2 linked regions of the Homo sapiens genome follow. The protein of the gene in region 2 interacts with the protein of the main gene of each other region in a pairwise test. Each region holds a gene or a part of one and is shown on either strand. Other genes may lie near its edges.

Region 1 (12,046 bases), on a different chromosome or scaffold from region 2:
GGAGCGGATGTAGCACCTCAGCGCCTCGTCTGTGTCCGCCGCCTGCACGGCTGCCTGCGAGGCACTGACCTCCCCCTCGCCCTCCTCTTCACCTGCAGACTCAAATGCCGCTCCAAACTCACAGGAGGAAGAACTGAAAAGAGCCAGACCAGGACGTTGTGCAACCCCTTTCTCTCCAGCCCCTGAGACCATGAGCCTCTTTAAAGGAAGGAAGGTGTCTACGGGTCCCATGGAGCCTGGCCTGTGGCACGATCCCCAGCAAGGCAGGACGGGCCTGAGAGATCCCTGCAGGCTACGCCAGCGGGATCCTGCCCCAGCCAGAAATGTCTAGCATGTGGGGCAGGAACCAGGAGGCCTGCGCAGGGCTGGGGTCAGGGAACCAGCCCCCTAAACCCACCTGGTTTTCCCACAGGTCAAACCCAGAAGGTGACGGGGGTTTTTGAAGATTGGCCATTAGGTCTCACTCGTGCCAACCCTCACGCCCACGGGCCAGAGGATACATGAGGCCACTGACCCCATCGCATCCATCCGGTTACCTCTGTGAGCTCAAGGAGCTGTCACTGCCATCCACAGAGGTGGCCACGGATTCTTGAGAGGCTGGGATCTGGGCGTCATCATTGAGGCCTGGAGGTGCCTCCTTGGTGGGCGACCTGCTTGGGGGTGTGATGCTTTCATGATGCTTCCTTTGATGTCGGGGGCCCTTGGTCTTAGCAGGTCCCTTGGGCCTATGGGCCCCAGGTCCTGTGGTGGCCTCCTGCTGGGCATGGACCCCTGCCCTTGAAGGCTTGTAGGTCTGGGAGGCGAGGGTCTGGCAGTGAGGCGCCTGCAACAGCGGCTGTGAGGACTGGCTCTCGTCCTCGGAGTCTGAGTCCAGGGTCTGGTGAGTGTACTGGAATATCTCCTTCAGCTTCAGAACCATCTGGCGTTTAGGCAGAGGGCGGACTCCAAACCTGACGGAGGAACAGGTGGATCTCAGGACCCACCCACACAGCTGGTCCACACTCCACGTTCCCTATCTTAGCAAAGAGTGATACCCAATGCATTCAGCGAATGGCTTGTGTGACAAACCATAGATGCCTGACTTCTGTGAGCATCAGAGGTTAGTGTCTATTCTAGGCGCCAACTAAGCTTACTCTGAATATTCCAAAAGAAACATTGCCAGCCAGGCACAATGGCTCACGCCTACAATCCCAGCACTTTGGGAGGCTGAGGCAGGAGGACAGTTTGAGCTCAGGAGTTCAAGGCCAGCCTGGGCAACATAGCAAGACCCCGCCTCTACAAAAAATACAAAAATTAGCCAGGCGTGGTGGTGTCACCTGTAGTCCCAGCTACTAGGGAGGATGAGGTAGGATCGCTTAAGCCCGGGAGGCTGAGGCTACAGTGAGCCAAGATCACATCACTCTACTCCAGCCTGGGCAACAGAGTGAGATCCTGTCTCCAAAAATAAAAAATAAACAAAAGATATGCTGCTCCCAGTTCTGAGGGATGGTGGCAGCAGCAGCTTCCCCGGGTGCCCGAGTGGAAGAGCAGTGTCATGTGGATGTGAGAGTTAAATGTTCTTTTAAAAAAAATCAGGCCTCCGCCGGGCACAGTGGCTCACGCCTGTAATCCCAGCATTTTGGGAAGCCGAGGCGGGTGGATCACGTGGTCAGGAGTTCGAGACCAGCCTGGCCAACATGGTGAAACCCCGTCTCTACTAAAAATACAACAATTAGCCTGGTGTGGTGGCGTGTGCCTGTAGTCCCAGCTACTCGGGAGGCTGAGTCAGGAGAATCGCTTGAACCCGGGAGGTGGAGGTTGCAGTGAGCCGGGACTGCGCCACTGCACTCCAGCCTGGGCGACAGAGCAAGACTCTGTCTTTCAAAAAAAAAATCAGACCTCCTCACTCAGACTGCTCTGGCTAGGGGGCCATTTCCATCTACATGGAATATGGGGACCTGCTGCCCAGGGGTGACATGCACGAATCCTGTGTGTTGCCTCCCTGGGGAATGGTACGCAGAGAGAACTGGGAGGCTCACCCCGGCACCCAGCAGTCACACATGCTCCCTAAGGAGCTGACTGCAGACCTTTCTTCCCAAGCCCAGGCCAGCTGCATCCACCAGACCCAGAGACCACACGGGGGGCCCTTCCGCCCCCAGGTGTGTGAAACCCAGTTACTTATGGGAGGGAAAAGACCACTGTGGGCAACAAGCTTTGAAGACCGCCAACCTATCCAGTTCCTTCTTCAGCACCGGCGTCTCCATAATGGAATACTGTGGCATCGGCGTTATGGGCACTTTGGGGGGCAAGTTCTTCTTCCGATTAGCACCTTCTGGGTAAAACAAAAGAAGCACACGTTTTAGCATGAGGGACACGGATTTCCCACATCTGATCCCAGTAGCGTGACCAAGAGGAATAATGCACTTGAAGATAACCCAAGCATCGTTTTGCTCCATGAAAGCAACAGTGGTCACCCCTTCCCTGTCTGGAGCAGGGGCTTCCCAATGATAGCATCGGTGACACGCACTGAGGACCACACCTTGTATAACACGGGTGCCGGGTGAACAGAGCTCCTGGGGCCACTGAACCCAACAGCCCGGCACGTGACTAAAACTTATGCATGTAAACTTAAAAATATCTGACCCACAGTGACAACTTGAGACAATGGGCCACACTGATACTCTTCAAACAGGCTTAGACATCAGTTTTGCTTTTTAAAAATAATTCATCAATTTAAAAAAACCCAGTTAAAAAATGGGCAAAGGGGCCGGGCGCGGTGGCTCACGCCTGTAATCCCAGCACTTTGGGAGGCCGAGGTGGGCGGATCACGAGGTCAGGAGATCGAGACCATCCTGGCTAACACGGTGAAACCCCGTCTCTATTAAAAATACAAAAAATTAGCTGGGCGTGGTGGCGGGCGCCTGTAGTCCCAGCTGCTTGGGAGGCTGAGGCAGGAGAATGGCGTGAACCTGGGAGGCGGAGCTTGCAGTGAGCCGAGATCACACCACTGCACTCCAGCCTGGGCGACAGAGCAAGACTCTGTCTCAAAAAAAAAAAAAAAAAAGGGCAAAGGATGTGAACAGACATTTCTCCAGAGAAGATCTACAAATGGCCAATAAGCACATGAAAAGGTGCCCGACATCATTAGTCATCAGGGAAATGCAAGTCAAAACCACAGTGAGATACCACTGCACGCCCACTAGGATGGCCATAACAAAAAACACAGAGGGTTTGGGCAAAATGGCAGAACCCTATCTCTACAAAAAAAAAAAAAAAAAAATACAAAAAAAGTTAGCAGGGTGTGGTGGCCCAAGTCACCAATGTGGGCAGCTGTTTGTGGCTGGTTCCAGCTACTCGGGAGGCTGAGGTGGGAGGATCACCTGAGCCAGGAAGGTTGAGGCTGCAGCAAGCCATGAACACGCCACTGCACTCCAGCCTGGGCGACAGAGCAAGACCTTGTCTCAAAACAATAACAACAACAACAAAAACAGAATAACAAGTGTTGGTGGAGATTTAAAATGGTGCAGTCACTTTGGAAAACAGTCTCGCAGTTCCTCACAATGCTAAACACAGTTGCCATATGACCCAGCAATTCCACTCCTAAGTACAGAACCAAGAAGAAGGAAAACATGTCTACACGAAAACTTGCACATCAATATTCCTAAGTGGCATTATTAATAACCACAAATTAAAAACAACCCGTGTGTCCACTAGTAGATGAATGGATAAGCAAAATGTGGCATACCATCAGTGGGGTATTAGACATACAAAGGAATGTATGCCCAAAGCCAGGGCAACATAGCAAGACCCAGTCTCTACTAAAAAAAAAAAATTAGCTGGGCATGGTGGCAGCTGCCTGTAGTCCCAGCTACTCAGGAGGTTGAGGTGGGAGGATCACTTGAGCCTGGGAGGTCGAGGCTACAATGAGCTGTAATTGCGCCACTGCACTTCAGCCTGGGTGACAGAGCAAGACCCCTGACTCAAAAACAGGCCAGGCACAGTGGCTCAGGCTTGTAATCCCAGCACTGTGGGAGACCAAAGTGGGTGGATCACTTGAGGTTAGGAGTTCGAGACCAGCTTGGCCAACATGGTGAAACCCCATCTGTACTAAAAATACAAAAAAATTAGCCGGGCATGGCATGGCGATGGGCGCTTGTAATCCCAGCTACTCGGGAGGCTGAGGCGGGAGAATCGCTTGGACCCAGGAGGTGGAGGTTGCAGTGAGCCGAGATCGTGCCACTGCACTCTAGCCTGGGCAACAGAGAGAGGCTCCGTCTCAAAAAAAAAAAAAAAGAATAAAAAGGAATAAAATACTGATCCATGCTACAACATGTATGAATCTTGAAAACTGTATGCTAACTGAAAGAAGCCAGACACAGACACAAAAGGCCACATATTAGTTATATATGGCTCTGTTTATATGAAATGTCCAGGACAGGCAAATCCATAGAGACAGAAAGGTTCTTGGTTGCCAGGGCTGGGGGAAGGGGAAGGTGAGAGACTGCTCATGGGTACAGGATTTTTGAGATGATGAAAATGTTCTAGAATTAGAGAGTGGGGACAATTGTACAACACTGTGAATGTACTGAGAAGCACTGAACTGTCCATTTTAAAAGGGTGGATATTATGGTATGTGAATTATATCTAAATAAAGCTGTTACTTTAAAAAATAATAGGCTGGGCGAGGTGGCTCACGCCTGTAATCCCAGCACTTTGGGAGGCCGAGGTGGGCGGATCACCTGAGGTCAGCAGCTCAAGACCAGCCTGATCAACATGGTGAAACCCGACTCTACTAAAAATACAAAAATTAGCTGGGCGTGGTGCTGGGTGCCTGTAATCCCAGCTACTCGGGAGGCTGAGGCAGGAGAATCCCTTGAACCCGAGAGGTGGAGGTTGCAGTGAGCCGAGATAGCCCCACTGCACTCCAGCCTGGTGACACATTGGAAACAGTCAGACTTTGGTTCTTCTGCCTTTTATGACCATGGAGCCCTTTGAGCCCCCGATGAAAGCGGCAGGCTCTGTCTCCTGAGAAAAGCACGATTCTTCCTGTGGCCGCAGCGTCGTCCTGAAGCCCACCTCAGATCTGCTGTGCAGCCTCCTGCAGCTGTTCTCACAGCACTGCCTGGGAACTGGTTAGAAATGCAAATTCTTAGTCACCCTCCCGAAGCAAGGCTCTGGGGCAGGCTGGGCCACGGGCGTGCTATAAGAAGCTCTCCAGGTGTTTCTGAAGCCCCTGAGGGCCGAGGACACTATCAGTGGCCTCATTCATCTGGATTTTGGGAGGAAATGGGCCCCCAGGCCGCAGGCAGGTGCTCACTCACAGCCTGGCCTTTCTCCCAGTCATGCTCAGCCCAGCCCGGCCTGTCCTTGCCCTCCCCGGAGGTGCCTGGATGGGAGCAGCAGCACCGAGGGGGCCGACACCTGGGGCTCTGACTCTCCCCGGGGACTGAAATGAGCAGGGAGGTGGCATCCCTGCACCTGGGAGGACCAGGAAGAACAGGCCTAACAGCCTCTCACACTTGTCCCACCTGATTCTTTTTTTAATTGAGGTGAAATTCACATAAAAAAATCGTAAAGGGAATAATTCAGTGGCATTAAGTATTCACAATGTTGTACAACCATCACCTCTATCTATTTGCAAAACATTTTCACCACCCCAAAAGGACACCCTGTATCCCATAAGCAGTCACTCCCCATTCCCCCTCCCTCCAACCCAGGCCAACCACTAACCTGCATTTTCTCTGGATTTGCCTATTCTAGACATTTCATATCCATGAGTGCAGACAGTACATGACCTTCTATGTCTGGCTTCTCTCACCCGGCAGCATGTTTTCTGGGTCGTCCACGCGGTAGCGTGTGGCAGTGCCTCACTCCTCTTTGTGGCTGAACACTATTCCATTTTCTAGTGGTCTAGATGGACCACGTTTGGTTTCCCTGTTCATCTCCTGACGGGCATTTGGGTTGCTTCCAGCTTTTGGCGATTGTGAACAGCGCTTCTATGAACATGCATGTCTGAGTCCCTGTTTTTAATTCTTTTGGATATACAGGTAAAAGTGGAATTGCTGGGTCCTGCAGTCAATCTACGGTTAACATTCTGGAGAACCACCCTGGTCCAATCTTAAGGCATGCCGATACTTGCTGAATGAGTTGTGGCCTTTGGAGGTGCCGGCTCCGTGTTCTGGAGAAGGGTCCACAGATGTGGATTTTTAACACATGCCCAGGTGAGCACTGGAGCCAGGCAAGTTTGGGAAACACTGACTTACTGGCTGAGAAGTGTAGCATGAGAACCAGCCCGGCTCTCCTCCACTGTGGAGGGGAGTCTGGAAGGCAGCGGAAGTGTCATGCCTCAGGTCAGCAGGCATTCAGAGGGCAGCCCCTGGGTCTCATGACTGATCTTCCCACCCTCTTAGTGTAAAATAGTAACAAAGACAGTCCCCTTCCCCAGCTCTCCTGGCTACTCACTGGGTGTCTCTAACCCTTCGGGCTTCTGAGCTCCACCAGCGCTTGGCATCTGGGCCGGAGGAGGGGTCTCTGGAGGCCTCTGCTCTTCCCCGTCCCAAACGTCCCACAGAGCCGAATTCAGAAAGCTCGGCCTGCTATTCCCCAGGGAGCCCGCGCCCGAGGACTTCTCTTGCAATTTCCTCTGGGTAGTGCAGCTTCCTCGGATGGGGGTGGTGTCCAGGAGTCCCGGGGAGCGACAGTCACGGCTGTCGGCGGCCTCGTTCATCCTGCGGCTGGGGCTGCTGGTGCTCAGGGGGCCGGTCCGCTCCAGGTTCCAGTGGTCAATGGGAATTGGCGAGAGGGGCTCCATGTGCCAGCAGCAGTCGTCAATTGGAATTGGGGGGTCACTGTCCAGTGGGGGGCTTCTGTTGGCCTGATGGGAGGCCACCTCCTGCTCATCGTCACTGTCTCCGACTTCCACCACTTCACCCGCTGGGGTCTGGTTCAGGAAGCTTGGCCCAGGCGGCGAGTGTTTCAGGAACCGCCTGCTGAAGTGGGCGCGGTCCCCTGAGATGGGATGTGGAGCCAGCGGAGAGGAGTGCGGGTGGCCCCCGGGGTGGGGACGGGAAGGGCTTCTGTGGCCTTGCCTTCTGCCGTCAGAAGTTCCTGGAGAGACGGGAGTGAGGCATGAGGACGGTGTCTGGGGCGGTGGTGTCTGGGGCCTGATGACAGAAAACTTCTGTGCGACTTCGTTCCCTTCCCTGTTTCCTACTGAGGCCCTGGGCGTGTGCTGAGTCACCGCCTGCACGGCCAGCCCGCTCCTGAGGCTGCTGATTTGGGTCTGGGAAGAACAGTCACGGCTTCTGCTGGCCAGCGGGGTGGCGGGCACCAGCCACGAGGTGTCTGTGGTGCTGGCCTCGCTGGGGCTGCTCTCACGGTCACAGAACAGCCAGGGAGCCCCTCTCCTGCCCAAAGAGCCCCGATTCTCCGGCAGCGCCCCCTCATCCTCCTGCTGCAGCACAGCTTCGCTTCTTGGTGGGCTCTGGGAAGGTTCCTGATCTGCATCAACATCAATGATGGAAAACAGCTCACAGGACCTAGGGCTAATTTCTAGAGCTTTCTTTTCTTCCAGAGGATCACTAGAAATGGACTTCATTTTGGTTTGTTCTAGCTCCAGCTCCTCATCCGAGTCCAGTAAGAGGATGACCTCATCTTCTTCGTTCAGTTTGGATGAAGATTTCTGAGATCTGGAGCTCGAATGGTCAGGATTTGACTGGGTTAGGTCAATAGACGGAGATTTTTCTGGGAACATCAGGACCCCCTTATTTCTGCACTCCAGCACGGACCGACGCTCTTTGCCTTTCTGGTGCCCTGGCTCTTTAGACAGCGTGAGGATGCTCCTGTCCCTTTTCTGCTTTGATGGCACAGCTGGAGACAGCAAGGTTGGGGAGCCCACCTGGGAAGTTCCGCCACGGGACCGGGGTGTTGACAGGGACGACCCACTTGTGTGATGAGACCCGCGGGGACTCCCGCCCTGGGGAGGCCCCAATAGGAAGCGGCACGGGTGCGGTGGAGATGCCTGCCAGGGAGCCAGGCGATGAGAAACCTCCAGCCCCCTTTCCCTGACAGCGCCACTTTGTTCCTCGGGCTCACTTGTTATTTGGGACGGCTCTGAGATCTCTCCCTGAGTTGATGAGAAGAGCTGTTCGTAATCCCCGGCATCATCTGAGTGCGGAAGAGAGCCTTCTTTTCTCTCTGCCTGGCAGTCCCTGGAAGGGCTGGAGCAGCTGGAATGGCCAAGCGCCTCCTCTGGCGCCTCCTGCTCAGGGGCCTCTGCTCCCCGTGCCCCTGAGTGCTGGCCCTGGGGTGGCGGGAGAGCGCACTGTCCCATCTTCTCCCAGGTGGTGGCGGCCTCATCTCTTCCTGGCTCCAACGGCTCCATCTCCTCCACCTTGTCCCACTGTTTCTGCACCTGGACACCTGCTAGGAGTTGCCCAGAAACCGGACTGCCACCCTCCAGCCAGTCAGCGTCCTCGCCGGCACCCGCTGCCCTTTCTTCCTGGAGAAGCTTTCGCTGAGTAGCTGCAAATTCATAAATTTCTTCCATTTCTGCTTCATTCACGTTTTCTTGATCTTCTTCGTGGTCCTTGGATTTCAACAAAGTCTCCGCTTCCTCCTCTTCATCTGCCCACATTGACCTCAAGAGTTCCTGGAAATTCTCGGCCCTGCTTTCGCAATTCTCTGCTTCCTTCTCCTCCCATGGTTTGCCCTCTGAGTCAGTGGCAATAGGCACCTGTTCGCACAGGTGAACGAGCTCACTCACGCCAAACCTGCAACACGAAACATCGACAGTCATCGCCCCTCTGCGTGGAGATGGGCTCTGGGTGCCCCGGTGGGGTGGCGGACCAGAGCAGAGTCTTCACCAGGAGGAATGACCATGACCCAGGCCCTGCTTCCCTTTGAAGACGGTGTCCACACTCCTTGCCAGAAACACCCAGGCCACTTAGTTCCAGAAACCGGGGACTGACAACACTTAAAGCAGGGCTTCCTAACTATAGCTGCAGACATAAAGGGGTGTGTCGGACTGAATGTAAGGTAACAGGGATTGGCAGAGCTACAAAACTGGGGAGTCTGTGCTGCCTCAGAGGCTCTTAAGATATGGTGTCAGAGCCAGGCATTGTGGCTCATGCCTGAAATTCCAGCACTTTGGGAAGCCGAGGATCACTCAAGGCCGGGAGTTTGAGATCAGCCTGGACAACATAGAAAGTCTCCATCTCTACAAAAAAATGTAAAAATTAGCCTAGGAGTTCAAGGCTACAGTGAGCTGTGATCATGCCACTGCCATCCAGCCTGGGCAACAGCAAGAGACTCTGTCTCTAAAAGGATAAAAAAGGTCATGCATGGTGGCTCATGCCCATAATCCCAGCACTTTGGGAGGCGGAGGCAGGAGGATTGCTTGAGGTCAGGAGTTCAAGAACAGCCTGGGCAACACAGCGACACTCCGTCTCTCCAAAAAATAAAAAATAAATGAAAAGACATGGCATCAGACACAATCCACAGCACACCAAGTCCTTGAGTCAGCCCAGGCCAACGGGCAAGCCAGCCAGCCACCTGCTTGAAGGCTCTGTGGCCCGTCAGTATATTTCCAACTCCAGAGGCTGAGCTGTTCCTTTCCTAAGAAAGCAGCGGAGGGAGGACGCAGGCTCGGATCAGCGGCCCAGGCCCTGTCCAGAGGCACAACACTTGTCCCTCTGAGCTGCTGCCTCTCTCCTAAGATGCTGGCTGGACAAGCCAGGAGAGCTGTGGCATCTGGGATGCAGCCTAAGCATTCTCTCCATGCCTGTTTTATGGGACTCTGGAAAGGACTGCTGTTGTTCAGGTCTAGTGGTGGAACAATCACTGAGCAGCAGTGTTGGGGGGCGCTGTAGCCAAGGGCCATTCTCTTATCACACCTAGGGGGTTAAAAACCACGGGACTCAATAGAGTCCTCCTGATCCAGTGCTTGGCACCCCTGCAAGGGTCTGTTCTGGCCTGACTTTCACCTAACATGCCCTGTTCCACAGGGTCATCACTGGTCATGGACTTGGGATTAAAAGGTATAAACAGGACTGTTAGTTCTCTTGGCCTCAGCCCCGAGCCCTCTGCAGCACAACCCTCCAGAGCTGTTAACCTGCCAGTCCTCGTCAGTTAATTTCAAAAGCTGGGGAGCAATCCAGACCTGTGGGCCAGGGAGCTCAGCTCAGAGCTAAGGCCAGGAGGAAGGCCAGTGTCCGCAGTGTAGAGATAGTGCAGGAACGTGCGGGCGGCCTCGGTGCTCACGTCACCCAGCAGGACACGCTGGGTCAGAACCCCGTCCTCTACAGCGGAGAAGCCTTCATTGTTCACCTGCAGGTGAAATGCAACACAGAGGGTTTACTGATCAGAGAGTTGTAACTTGGAGCAAAGCAGACGGTCTGGGGTGTCCTGCAAGTCACTAGTCTTTTTATTTTTCTTTTTAGAGACAGTGTCTCCCCTTGTCACCCAGGCTAGAGTACAGTGGTGTGATCATGGCTTACTGCAGCCTTGAACTCCTAGGCTAATTTTAAATTTTAATTAATTTTATTATTTTGAGTTGGAATCTCTCTCTGTTGCCCAGGCTGGAGTGCAGTGGTGAGATCTCGGCTCACTGCAACCTCCACCTCCTCGGTTCCAGCGTATTCTCCTGCCTCAGCCTCCCGAGTAGCTGGGATTGCAGCCGCCCACCACCATGCCCGGCTAATTTTTTATAGTTTCAGTAGAGATAAGGTTTCACTATGTTGGCCAGGCTGGTCTTGGAACTCCTGACCTCAGGTGATCCACCCTCCTCGGCCTCCCAAAGTGCTGGGATTACTGGCGTGAGCCACTGCGCCCAGCCCCTAGGCTAATTTTTAAATTTTTTTGTAGAGATGGGCTCTCACTGTGTTGTTCAGGCTGGTCTTGAACTCCTGGCCTCAAGCGATCCTCCCACCTTAGTCTCCCAAAGTACGGGGATCTCAGGCATGAGCCGCCGTGCCTGGTCCCTAGTCTTAAAAGCAGCTCCATGCCCCAGGAAAAGCATTAGCCACTGTTTATGCAGATTTTTGGCCAATAATTTTACAGGTGAGGCCTAACACTCCTCTTTTGTCAAATCGTATTGGGACTAGATATTCCAGGACCCCGTTAAGAGTCCTCCTGATAGACACATATGGGATCCAGAACTTTGACAAAGACTGAGAATAGCTCCCTGAGTTCCTGCCCACACTCAAGTCAAATGCTTTCAAGTCAGAAGGCAGGTTCATCAGCAACTCATCCCTGAGGAGATCAATTATGAGCCTTTGTAATTATGCAAATAGAGAAAAGAGAAAACAATTCTGGGAAACAATGGATTTTCTTTTTGTTTTGTTTTGTTTTTGAGACAGAGTCTTGCTCTGTCGCCCAGGCTGGAGTGCAGTGGTGCAATCTCAGCTCATTGGAAGCTCCGCCTCCCAGGTTCATGCCATTCTCCTGCCTCAGCCTCCCGAGTAGCTGGGACTACAGGCGCCCGCCACCATGCCCGGCTAATTTTTTTGTATTTTTAGTAGAGACTGGTTTCACTGTGTTAGGATGGTCTTGATCTCCTGACCTTGTGATCTGCCCGCCTCGGCCTCCCAAAGTGCTGGAATTACAGGCGTGAGCCACCGCGCCCGGCCAAACAATGGATTTTCATTCAACAGAACGAAAACACTGATGTTTCCCAGTTGTGAGGCCATCCCCTCACACCCACTCCTAACCTCAAGCGTGGGTCTTTATCTCTTCTCCACGTGTTGCAGAAACGGATGGTTGGGAGGGAGAAGGTGAGAACATGGTGGGGCAGGAAGTGAGGGAGAGTGGGGGGGTGGAAAGGGCACCTGAGACATGGGAAGACCTGGTTGGAGAAAGGCAGGAGGAGAGAGGGAGAGAGAGGAAAGGAGGGCACACGGCAGCCCACGTACTTACATACTGGATGAGGAGCGGGCATCGGGCATAAAGCACGAACTTGTGGGCGTAAAGCACCTCCCCGCTGTCCGTCTGAAACTGGACATCACTCAGGTGTGGGTTATTGACCATGGCGCCAAAGTCAGCAACCAGCAGCCCGAGGGAGAGCTGAAGC
Region 2 (12,046 bases):
TTTTTTAACTAGACAGAGAAAATGTAAACCATAAAGAAAAAGAATGACAGCTTTGGCCATATTGAAATTAAAACTTTTCTAAGAAAACTGGGAGAAAAATATTTGCAATCCATATCTAACAAAGGATTTCTATCTAGAATACATAGTCTCAAAATTCAATAGTAAAAAGCAACAGTCCAATCAGAAAATGGGCAAATGACAAACAGATATCTCACCAAGAAGGATATACAGATGGTAAAAAAGCATATGAAAAGATATTCAACATCATTAGCCATGGGAAAATGTAAAATAAAACCACAATGAGATATCACTACATATCTACCAGAAAGACAAATAAAAAACAATAACACCAAATGCTGGTGAGGGTGCAGAGAAAATAGATCTCTCATATATCACTGGTGGGACTGTAAAAGTGGTACAGCCACTCAGGAAAAGTGACTGGAAGTTTCTTATCAATCTAAACAACCCAAAAATTGCTCTCCTCAGAATTTATCCCAGAGAAATGAGAACTTAGGCTCACGTAAAAACTTGTTCAAAAATGTTCATAGTAACTTTTTTTTTTTTTTTTTTTTTGAGACAGAGTCGCACTCTGTTGCCCAGGCTGTAGTGCAGTGGCCCAATTTCGGCTCACTGCAACCTCTGCCCTCCGAGTTCAAGTGATTCTCTTGCCTCAGCCTCCCAAGTAGCTGGGATTACAGGTGCCTGCCACCACACCTGGCTAATTTTTATGTTTTTAATAGAGACGGGGTTTCACCATCATGGCCAGGCTGGGCTTGAACTCCTGACCTTGTGATCCACCCACCTCAGCCTCCCAAAGTGCTGGGATTACAGGTATGAGCCACCGCATCCGGCCATCATAGTAACTTTATTCTTAACAGCCACAAACTGGAAACAACCCAGACATCCTTCAACGTGTGAATGGTTAAACAAACTGCAGTACCTTTATACCCTGGCATATTACTCAGGCAGAGGGAATAAACTATTGATACATGCAACTTGGATGGATTTTAAGGAAATAGGCTGAGTTAAAAAAAAAAAAAAAAAAAAAAAAGCAATCTCAGCCAGGCACAGTGGCTCATGGCTGTAATCCCAGCAGTTTCAGAGGCCAAGTAGGGCAGATCACCTGAGGTCAGGAGTTCAAGACCAGCCTGGCTAACATGGTGAAACCCTGTTTCTACTAAAAATACAAAAAATTAGCCGGGCTTAGTGGCATGTGCCTGTAGTCCCAGCTACTCAGGAGGCCGAGGCGGGAGAATCGCTTGAACTCAGGAGGCGGAGGTTGCAGTGAGCCGAGATCACGCCACTGCACTCCAGCCTGAGTGACAGAGTGAGACTCCATCTCAAAAAAAAAAAAAAAGGGCAATCTCATCGGCTGGGCATGGTGGCTCACATCTGTAATCCCAGCACTTTGGGAGGCTGAGGCGGGCGGATCATGAGGTCAGGAGTTCAAGACCAGCATGGCCAACATGGTGAAACTCCATCTCTACTAAAAATTAAAAAAATTAGCCAGGCGTCTTGGTGCACACCTGTAATCCCAGCTACTAGGGAGGCTGAGGCAGGAGAATTGCTTGAACCTAGGAGGTGGAGTTTGCAGTGAGCCAAGATCGCGCCATTGCACTCCAGCCTGGGCAACAAGAGCAAAACTCCATCTCAAAAAAAAAAAAAAAAAAAAAGAAAGAAAAAAGAAAAAGCAATCCAACAGAAAAATGGGGAGAGGTGGTCCCCAGAGTAAGGTGCCCCTGCCTCCCAACAAAGTCTCTGCAGGTCTGGCAAGGCAGTAGGGGGTGGAAGGAGAGCTTCTCATCCCTTCTGTTATTTAGGCCTTGACAACCACTGTGCAACATCCAACCATGAGACTTGTATATCCTCTGGGAGCTGAGGGGCATGTCCCTCACTATTCTTTTACAAAACCCAATTAGTTGTGATATCTAAACACAGAAGAATTGACGGAGAATCTGTGGGGAACACATGTTCTCTTCCCTTACTACATGCACACAGCCTGTTATCTGGGATGGAACAGATGACAGTCATGGATGGGCCCATCCGCCTCCCACGAGAAGGAAAAATCACAACATGGTGCTATGGTCTACATGTTGGTATCCCCCCAAATTTATATGTTGGAACCTAATGCCCAGTGTAATAGTATTAACGGTGGGGACTTTGGAAAGTGATAAATAATGAGGGCTCCATCCTCATGAATGGGACCAGTGCCCTTATTTTAAAAAAGGCTCAAACAAGCTCCCCAGCCTCTCTACCTTATGTGAGGGTACAGCAAGAAGGTATCATCTTCGAAGCAGAAAGCAAGTCCAGGCCAGGCGCGGTGGCTCATGTCTGTAATCCCAGCACTTTGGGAGGCTGAGGCGGGCGGATCACGAGGTCAGGAGTTCGAGACCAGCGTGAACAACATGGTGAAACCCCACCTCTACTAAAAATACAAAAATTAGCTGAGCATGGTGGCACACACCTGTAATCCCAGCTACTCAGGAGGCTGAGGCAGGAGAATCACTTGAACCCGGGAGGCAGAGGTTGCAGTGAGCTGAGATTGTGCCACTGCAATCCAGCCTGGGTGACAGAGCGAGACTCCAGCTCAAAAAAAAAGAAAGAAAGAAACCCCTCACCAGACAGTGAATCTGCTGGTGCCTTGATCTTAAACGTCCCATTCTCCAGAACTGTGAGCAATAAATTCCTATTGTTTATAAATTACTCAGTCTAAGGTATTTTGTTATGGCAGCACAGGCAGACTAAAACACATGGTGATGCCAGCAGCTCCAGACCCCTACAACTACAGCCTCTTAAAGTACCTCTAATCTCTATCCTTGTACTTCCCCATCCCCAAACCCAACATTAGAGGTATCTGAGCATAAGTCCCCTATTCAAAACTCTTCACTGGGATTTCCCACAGCATCAGAAGCCCTTTTGTCAATGCTTGTATTAGTCTGTTCTTGCAATGCTATAAAGAACTACCTGAGACTGGGTAATTTATAAAGAAAAGTGGTTTAACTGGCTCGCAGTTCTCCAGGCTCTACAGGAAGCATGGCTGGGGAGGCCTCAGGAGACTTACAATCATGGTGGAAGGCAAAAGGAGGCAGGCACATCCTACATGACTGGAGCAGGAGGAAGAGAGAGAAGAGAGAGGTACTATACACTTTTAAACAACCAGAGCTTGAGAGAACTCACTATCCTGAGAACAGCAAGTGGGAAATCTGCCCCCATGAACAATCACCTTCAACCAGGCCCCTCCTCCAACACTGGGGGTTACAATTCAACATGAGATTTGCTCAGGAACACAAATCCGAACAATATCAGTGCCCCTGCCCAAACCTCCATCTTATGGCACAGGCAACTTCACACCTGTAATGCCACCACATAACCAACTCCTGGCACATGTCCTTGAACATGCAGCTCCAGCTCTCCCTGCCTTCACCCATGCATGCCGCACTGTGGAATGTCCTCTCCTAAAGCGAGTTGAGTTATCCTCTGAGACCCAACTCAGATGCCACCTGTTTCTTGGAGCCTTCTATGAACCAAGTGAATTGCTCCTTCTCTGGGACACACCTGAACCACCTCTACTCTCACGCTTAGCCCACTGAATTATAACTAACTCTGGTCCTCTCCCTGACTATAAGATTCCCAGGGACAGGGTCCATTCATCTCCTCTTTAATATTTGGGGTGTGGCACTGTTATGCATTAAAAGTTTGCTGACTTGGGTCCATTGATGTTACTAAATCAGAATGTGGTTTTTTGTTTTTGTTTTTGTTTTTTTTTAGATTTATACCTATTTATCCAACGTATCTTTACTGTCCCTAAATTCCAAATTCCACAGTAAGCCTTCCAAAAAAGAGGTCAAGCACTCTGGACCTATTTCACCAAATAAATAATACTTCAGTTATATATAATCATACAGCCAAAGCTGAGAGTTGTAATTCATATAAACACATACCCAGAAGATCCTAGTGTTTCATATTGAAAATAATGGGCAACAGATTAGAGGTGTGGTTGAAGTTTATACCACAAAGATGATGTTTTTGGTGCATAAATTTCTTTGTCTTTAAAATACTGGCATTTTAACATTCATTTAAATGGAAAAGATATTATTAGCTTCTATCTTAATTAAGTTTTAAATCAAGGAACATCCTGAGGCTTTTCTAAATTTTTTTTACTGATCATTAAAAAGCAAGTGTGCACACACGCACACAAAAAGCAACAATGCATCTTCAATGATTATTTTCCTAGGCCCTCAAAGTTGCTTTCAGCAGGATGCAACAAGCTCAGTGACCAGGTTTACAGAATAAATGTTAAAAAGCCTTTGCTACCAGAGCTGGCAATTCAAGTCTAAATTCAGTGGCATTTTTATTTTGTTGCCTGTTTTTAAGAAGTGTAGGACAACCCAAAAAGATCAATTTTCCAAATATCTGAAAGTATATAATTTACATAAGTATGCTAAGTTAGAGTATATTATAACTTACAAATGATGCCTCATCTTCTATTGTGCATTCTTGAGTCCACTCTCTCAGGCCTGAAAACAAGCATTCTTTAACAAAGAGGAGACTTTGATAGGGTATGACCTACCAAAAATATGATTACATGTGTGTTTTTAGTGGAGTGAGAAAGATCCTAAGAGCTTTAAAAAATTAATTTGGGAAGGGAATGGAAGTAGATTAAACAATATCACATGGTTGTCCTGTCATTTAAATACAAAGCAGAGATAAACTCTAATAAAGAAAGTCAATGACCCTCTAGATTATTCTGTGGGAAAATCTAAGGCACTCTGAAATTCACATTTGTCTTCTTTCTAGTGTTGCTGGCCTGTGTCACAAGCAAATGCTCTCATTAAATAGACCAGAAATTAACTTTAGGTTTCTAATCTCCAGATTTCAAATTTTATCTAGGAAATTATTATGCTTCTTTCTATCATCTTAAAAAACTTTCATTAGTTATGGGAACAGAAACAGAAAACAGCAAAGGCAAAGCCCTAGAACTTCTGAAGTTACAGCTATAATTCAAGAATGAGAAATCATTTCACTGTTGTCCTCTCCCAACACATGCACCAATCTTACCACCAAAACAACCAATATCAAGGAATGAATCACAAACTTAACAAAAGACCAAGGAAAAATGACAAATGAGCAAAGGCCTCACTGGTGACCACTCAGATAAAGGCTGAAAGGCAACTTCAGTGTAAAAAAGAATTAGTTTTTGCTATTATTCAGATGGTAATTCTGAATGCCAAAGTTTACTTATAAAAAAAAAAACAAAAACAAACACGTCAGATTCAACACTGGAAAGAGGATAATGCAAGTAACAAAAAAATTAGAACTTTTAAAAATCCTTTGTCACTAAATGTAAGTCAAACATTGATACTCTACCAAGAATAATTCCATGGAACAGTGCTACCTTTTAGTTACTCTATACTCTCAACCTAGTCAGTTGACCCATGATCTGAGCCTCCCCTTCCTGCTGTGCCCACAGAAAATCCCCACCAGCCACTGCATGGGATGCTTTACTAATAGGCAAAATTTAGTAGGTTTTCGTTGTTGTTGTTGTTTAGAGACAGGGTCTCGGTCTGTTGCCCGGGCTGCAGTGCAGTGGCGTGATCACGGCTCACTGAAACCTCAACCTCCCCAGGTTCAAGTGATCCTCCTGCCTCAGCCTTCCGAGTAGCTGGGACTACAGGTGTAAGCCACCATGCCCAGCTAATTTTTGTATTTTTTGTAGAGATGAGGTTTCGCCATATTGCCCAGGCTGTTTTCTAAGTCCTGAGCTCAAGCACTCCACTCGCCTCAGACTCTCAAAGTGCTGGGATTACAGGTGTGACCCCACCATGTCCGGCCTGAATCTAGTTTTTATTTAATACCTAGTCAGAAACAGACATAGGCACCCACACCTGATGCATGTCCTTAGGTTCTTGTAAAACACATCCCTTCAAATTCTGACTCTTCGTATGACCTGAGACAGGCTATTCAACTCCTTTAAGTCTCTGGTTTTCTTACCTCTGAAATGGGATAATAACAACAGTTTCTATTTCATGGCTCCTGTAAGGATTACATGAGATCAGATATGTAATTATGGGGCCTAGTGCCTGATACACAGTGGATGCTCAGTGTCTTAAACGGAATCATTCCAACAACAAGAGCACAAGCAAACAGCACATGATCAATCCACTTTGTAACCCAAGAACTCTGATAACTAATGTTTTCCAGTCACCTTTACATAGAAAAAAAAAGTTCTGATAATCATTAATAAAATAGTTTTAAAATCTAATCATTTCAAAGCAAAAACTGTTATGATGGAGAACAGATCACTGGTTGCCAAAGGTGAAGGGGTAAGGAGTACTACAAAGGGGTGGCAGAAGGGAAGTTGGGGAGGAAGGAGCTGATGGAACTGTTCCATGTGCTGATTTCGATAGTGGTTACAAAACACTCAATGCACTGATTAAAACTCTGAAAACTACATACCCAAGAATAATTTTATTTTACATAAATTAAAAATAATATTTATTTATTTATTTTTTAGTTTCTAGGTTTTTTTTGAGACAGAGTCTCACTGTGTCACCCAGGCTAAAGCGCAGTTGCACTATCTTGGCTCACTGCAACCTCTGCCTCGTGGGTTCAAGCAACTCTCCCACCTCAGCCTCCCAAGTAGCTAGGATTACAGGTGTGCACCACCATGCCCAGCTAATTTTTGTATTTTTAGTAGAGACAGGGTTTCACCATGTTGGCAAGGCTGGTCTCAAACTCCTGATCTCAAGTGATCCGCCAGCCTCGGCCTCCCAAAGTGTTGGAATAACAGGCGTGAGCCACCGTACTGGGTCTGGAATAATTTTTAAATGCAAAAAATAAAAAAAAAATGCAATCTTTTCTAACTAGAAGATAAATCAAAAGTGACACAAATGAATTTCTATGTCCACGATATTGTAATAGCCATATTCTATATATTATCCCATAATTAATATGAGTCAAATCCAATTTTAAACCACCTCTGATTTATTCAAGCACAAAACGTCAATACTAAAATAAACACAAGTAACCGCTTTTACATAATAGAAGCAAAAAGACTTTAGAAATATACTTACATCAACTCAAAATATAAGTGGTACTCCCCATCTCCCTGACAAAGGGGAGTTTTATGAAATTATAGGGTTGGCTTTATAGATCTCTACTTTGCTACCTAATAAATAGGTTTCTTCATGTGCATGAATTATTGTCCTCAATCTCTAAAAAGTAGACTTGAGGTTTAATACAGCTTAAAGTGATTAGACATGTACATGTCAAGAACTAACAATCCACTTAAAAGTCAATGCACACATTTTGCATTTTTAAAAAGCCATGTTTCATTCACAAAACATTAATTCATAAACTACATAACAGCAAAGGTGAAGTTTTAATACAAACATGCTTTATGACTATCACCTCTTGGTTTCACTGTATACAGAAGGCTTCATTACCAAATAATTAAACTTCTAAAAAAATTGTTAGGCCAGCCCCCGTGGCTCACACTTGTAATCCCAGCACTTTGAGAGGCCAAGGTGGGAGGACTGCCTGAGTCCAGGAGTTTGAGACAGGTCTGGGTAACATGGTAAAAACCCAACTCTACTAAAGATACAAAAAATTAGCCAGGCACAGTGGTGCGCACCTGTAGTCCCAGCTACTCGGGAGGCTGAGGCACGAGAATCACCTGAACCCAGGAGGTGGAGGCTGCAGCGAGCTGAGATCATACCACTGCACTCCAGCCTGAGAGTGGGACCCAGTCTCAAAAAAATGAAAAAAGAAAAAAACGTTTTTAATTAAAATAAGCTAGAGAAGAACAAAGCAATGTGAGAATGAGATTGTAAAAATAAGAACAAACCAAATGTCCATCAATTGGTGAATATGTAAACAAATTATTATATATCTACACAATGGAATACCGCTGAGTAATTAAAAAGGAATAAACTATCAAAACTCCCAACAACAAAGACGGTTCTCAAAATAATTATGATGGCCAGGCGTGTGTGGCTCATGCCTATAATACCAGTGCTTTGGGAGGCTGAGGCAGGATTGCTTGAGACCAGGAATTCAAGAGCAGCCTGTATAACACAGCAAGATCCTCTCTAAAACAAAATAAAAATTAAAAAAAAAAAATGATTATGATGATGATGAAAGAAGCCAGACTAACCCGTACCCCCCAAAAAGCACATACTCCAAGACTGCAGTTAGATAAAAACCTAGGAAATGTGGCCGGGCATGGTGGCTCACTCCTGTAATCCCAGCACTTTGGGATGCCAAGGTAGGCAGATCATTTGATCAGGTAGCCTGATCAACATGGTGAAACTCCATCTCTACTAAAAATACAAAGAAAAATTAGCTGGGCATGGTGAAGGAAGCCTGTAATCCCAGCTACTTGGAAGGCTGAGGCAGGAGAATTGCTTGAACTCAGGAGGCGGAGGTTGCAGTGAGCCAAGATCGCACCATTGCTCTCTAGTCCAGGTGACAGAGGGAGACTTCATCTCAAAAAAAAAAAAAAAAAAAAAAACACACACACCTAGGAAATGCAATGCAAACTTATCTACAGCGATAGATCAGAGGTTTCCTGGAAGAGGAGTGGCTGGAGGGATGACAATGCGGCAAGAGGAAACTTTTAGGGGTGATGGATACCTTCATTATCTTGATGAGGTGATGGTTTCACTGGCATAAACATACCAAATTGTACACTTTAATATGTGCATTAACTGTATAACAGTTATACCTCAATAAAGCTGTTTAAAAGTACTTACAGAAAAAAAAAAAAAGGCCTCTTCCAGGCCTGGTATATTGTGTTTATATCACCCTCTTTTCTAAACAAGTTCATATCCCGAAAAGTCACAGAACTGTAATACCTTTCCCCTGGTGATTTGCATGCATAAACAAAACCTTAAAGCCCAGAAATTTAATTATCATAAAATTTAACAATAGTTAATTAATATTTACATGGCTGTGACTATGTGCCGGGCACTATGACAAGCATTTTTCTTGTATGAATTTATCTAACGTTCACATCAACCCTATCTTACAGATGAGGAAACTGAGGTAGTGAAGGGATAAGTTATCTGATCAAGGTCACAAAGCTGATTAGTAGAGGAGCTAGAATTTGAACCCAGGGAGTCTAGCTCTAGAGTTAATTTCCTAACCCATCATGTTCTACTGCCACACACAATATGAGGTATGTTAATACTAGAAGCAATGAATATTGTACTTGTAAAATACTTTTCTTTCTCACACTCACAGAATATAAACATTCACTACAATTGGCAACACCACATGAAACTAAATAAAAAACAACAGTGGCTTTATTTTCTTTTCCCAATTAATAGATGGAGGGAGGAGAAGCAGAAAGGCTGGACAACTTTCTTAGGACACAGAGCAAATAATTGGCAAGTTGACCAGTTACTGGGAAGCTGGTTCCTTACATTCTTAATCCAGATCTTTTCATGGTTTTCAAAATCCCGATTATTTTAAGTAACACCATAAGGGAGAGAAAATCTAACATAGCAACATAAAACGTAAAAGTTGTTTCTGTTTTCTCATACTCCTTACTGGCTCTTTAATTTCATCCAGAGGGTCTCAATCTCTGCAGATACAGGGCTGGAGTCTGTTTTTAAAGCTCCCAGGTGATTGTTACGTGCAGCCAAGGCTGAGAACTCTTGATTTAGTCTTCTCATTAAAGAAAGACAGAAGGCAGCTGGGTGCAGTCGCTCATGCCTGCTTTCCTGCACTTTGACAGACCAAGGCAGAAGGATCGCTTGAGCCCAAGAGTTGGAGGTTACAGTGAGCTATGATCCCACCACTGCACTTCAGCCTGGGCAACAGGGTTATACCCTGTCTCAAAAAATAAAAATAAAAGAAGTAAAATAAAATGGGAAGACAGAAGAAAGCAAGGTGCCACAAAAAGCTTTGGTAAACCAAGGCCCAAGGTTTTCCAAGTCAGTATTGAACTGCTGTCCACATGCAAACTTTTGAGTTCAACTTTTAACAAATTAAAAGTACAAATATGCATACAAGATATGAGAAAGCAAGAAGCACAGTAAACAACTTTTAAAAAAAAAACGCAAACCAGTGGTAAATTGGATGCTAAGACTTACAGAGAAAACCCTACATTTCAGATGTTATAACAGAAATTACATATAAGTATATTGGGATGACAAAATCTCTTTTCAACTTTTTGGAAAGCTAAATTGACGCCCTAACATCAAGTCAATGAACTAAAAGCACAGAAAAAAACCTGTCAAATATCCATTGCATTTAGAACATGCAATAAATTGATAATACACTGTGAATCTAGTTAAGAAGCACGGGTTGAACAAAGAATGGGCCAGGCCGGGCGTGATGTCTCAGGCCTGTGATCCCAGGACTTTGGAGGCCAAGGCGGGTGGATCACCTGAGGTCAGGAGTTCGAGAACAACCCGGCCAACATGGCGAACCCTGTCTCTACTAAAAATACAAAAATTAGCCGGGGGTGGTGGCGCGCGCCTGTAATCCCAGCTACTGGGAACGCTGAGGCAGGAGAATTGCTTGAACCCGGGGGGCGGAGATGGCAGTGAGCCAAGATCGCGCCACTGCACTCCAACCTGGGCAACAGAGCGAGACTCCATCTAAAAAAAAAAAGAAAGAAAGAAAGGGCTGTATCTTTAGCCCATGCCCTGAATCAATGTTCCTTGAACTTTAAGGTACACTTCTTGAGGAAGATTCTGATTCAGCAGCTCTGGGGTGAGAGTCATGAAGTGTAATTCTAACAAGCTCCCAGGGATGCTGATGCTGGTGGTAGGTGAAATGAACTTGGAGCAACAAGGCCCTAAGTAACTGGAATATTAGTTTTAACGCTAGCCAACTGGCTTACAAATATCGTTATGTCTAGGATCCAAGAAGTAAGTGTCAATACCATTAATTCCTACACCCGGCCAAAAAAATTAAAAACTAAAAATAAAAAAAAATAGTTCAGGGGAAGGAGAAAGCAAATACTTGTTTATACAGTCTAGCAGTGCTAAGAACCATAAAATACTGTTATTTGTCTCAACCTAGTAGATGTCAAGGTGATAAAATGTAGGCTCCATGAGTTAATGGATTTTTTTTAGCTAACTCCTGAATCCTTATGGCCTAGCACAAATTAGGTACTCAAGAAATGCAATGAATAAATGAATGAATGGGAAGTATATACAAACGCAATCTGTATTTACCTCACATCTCCAAAAATGTCTGGGAAGGGGGAGGTATTTGTACTGCTGGATGCAGGTAGCCATGATTTGATACAAATACCTGGCCCATCTACTGCATTCCCTTTGTGCAAAGACAGTTAACTTTCCTGAATAATATCTCCACCGTAATGCCCATGCTCATGGCATCCTGATGTTTAGCAACTTTTTGGCTTTTTGAAAACAATGAAGAAAGGTGGAAGTACAGGGAGAAGGATTCGGAAAAGTCTCAAAAAATCAAAGCCAAAAACCAGGAGGGAGGAGATGGGCAAACAGTTCAGTTCACTTGAAGGAACATCTGAGGTTGTCAGAGGTCCATGTGCTTACCTATGATGGTGGCGGGGTTTGGGCTCGGGCTTTATATGTTTTGTTACTGTCCAGGGTCACTGGCGGAGTAGTACCTGGCTGTGGAAACTCGGACTACACAGGTAGCCGGAACTGCAGCCAACCTTCAGAAGCTTAAGGGAAGCACTTTCGCGCTTACTTCCTCCTTCCCAGGGTCTCCGCGCGCGTTTGGGAACTCAGCCGCCGCCCAAACACAAAATGATCTGGGCAGCTTCGCTGCAGGATTGAGGCCACAGCCAGGATTTAAGATGGCAGCGAAACACTTCGATGGCCCGTGGAATCTGCCCAAAAGAAAAATGGCCTCTGTTCAGAATATCGCGGCTTTCAAAGTGGGCCCAAAACAAAAATGGCGCCGGACGCAGGCTATTTTTAAAGGCTGGGACCCCAATGACTCTCATTAGCAAATAACGTATCATGGTAACTCACGGTGCTAGGCAGTTGAACTGACCGAGAGAAAAAAAAACGCTTTTCTGTGGTGTGTTTTCTTAACATTGGAA

What was found.
Region 1: the proteins of SLX4IP (region 2) and SLX4 interact in binary tests that used the Homo sapiens proteins (3 or more experiments, as listed by UniProt).

The regions. Positions count from the first base shown.
Region 1 is NC_000016.10:3,582,561-3,594,606, forward strand, and holds part of SLX4 (structure-specific endonuclease subunit SLX4), read right to left. Parts: intron 12,040-12,046; coding exon 11,893-12,039; intron 10,306-11,892; coding exon 10,139-10,305; intron 8,751-10,138; coding exon 6,442-8,750; exon of another isoform or gene 5,710-6,441; intron 5,109-5,709; exon of another isoform or gene 4,376-5,108; intron 2,312-4,375; coding exon 2,209-2,311; intron 951-2,208; coding exon 537-950; intron 134-536; coding exon 1-133. UniProt on the Homo sapiens protein: Regulatory subunit that interacts with and increases the activity of different structure-specific endonucleases.
Region 2 is NC_000020.11:10,434,939-10,446,984, reverse strand, and holds the start of SLX4IP (protein SLX4IP), read right to left. Parts: upstream 11,681-12,046; 5' UTR 11,532-11,680; intron 1-11,531.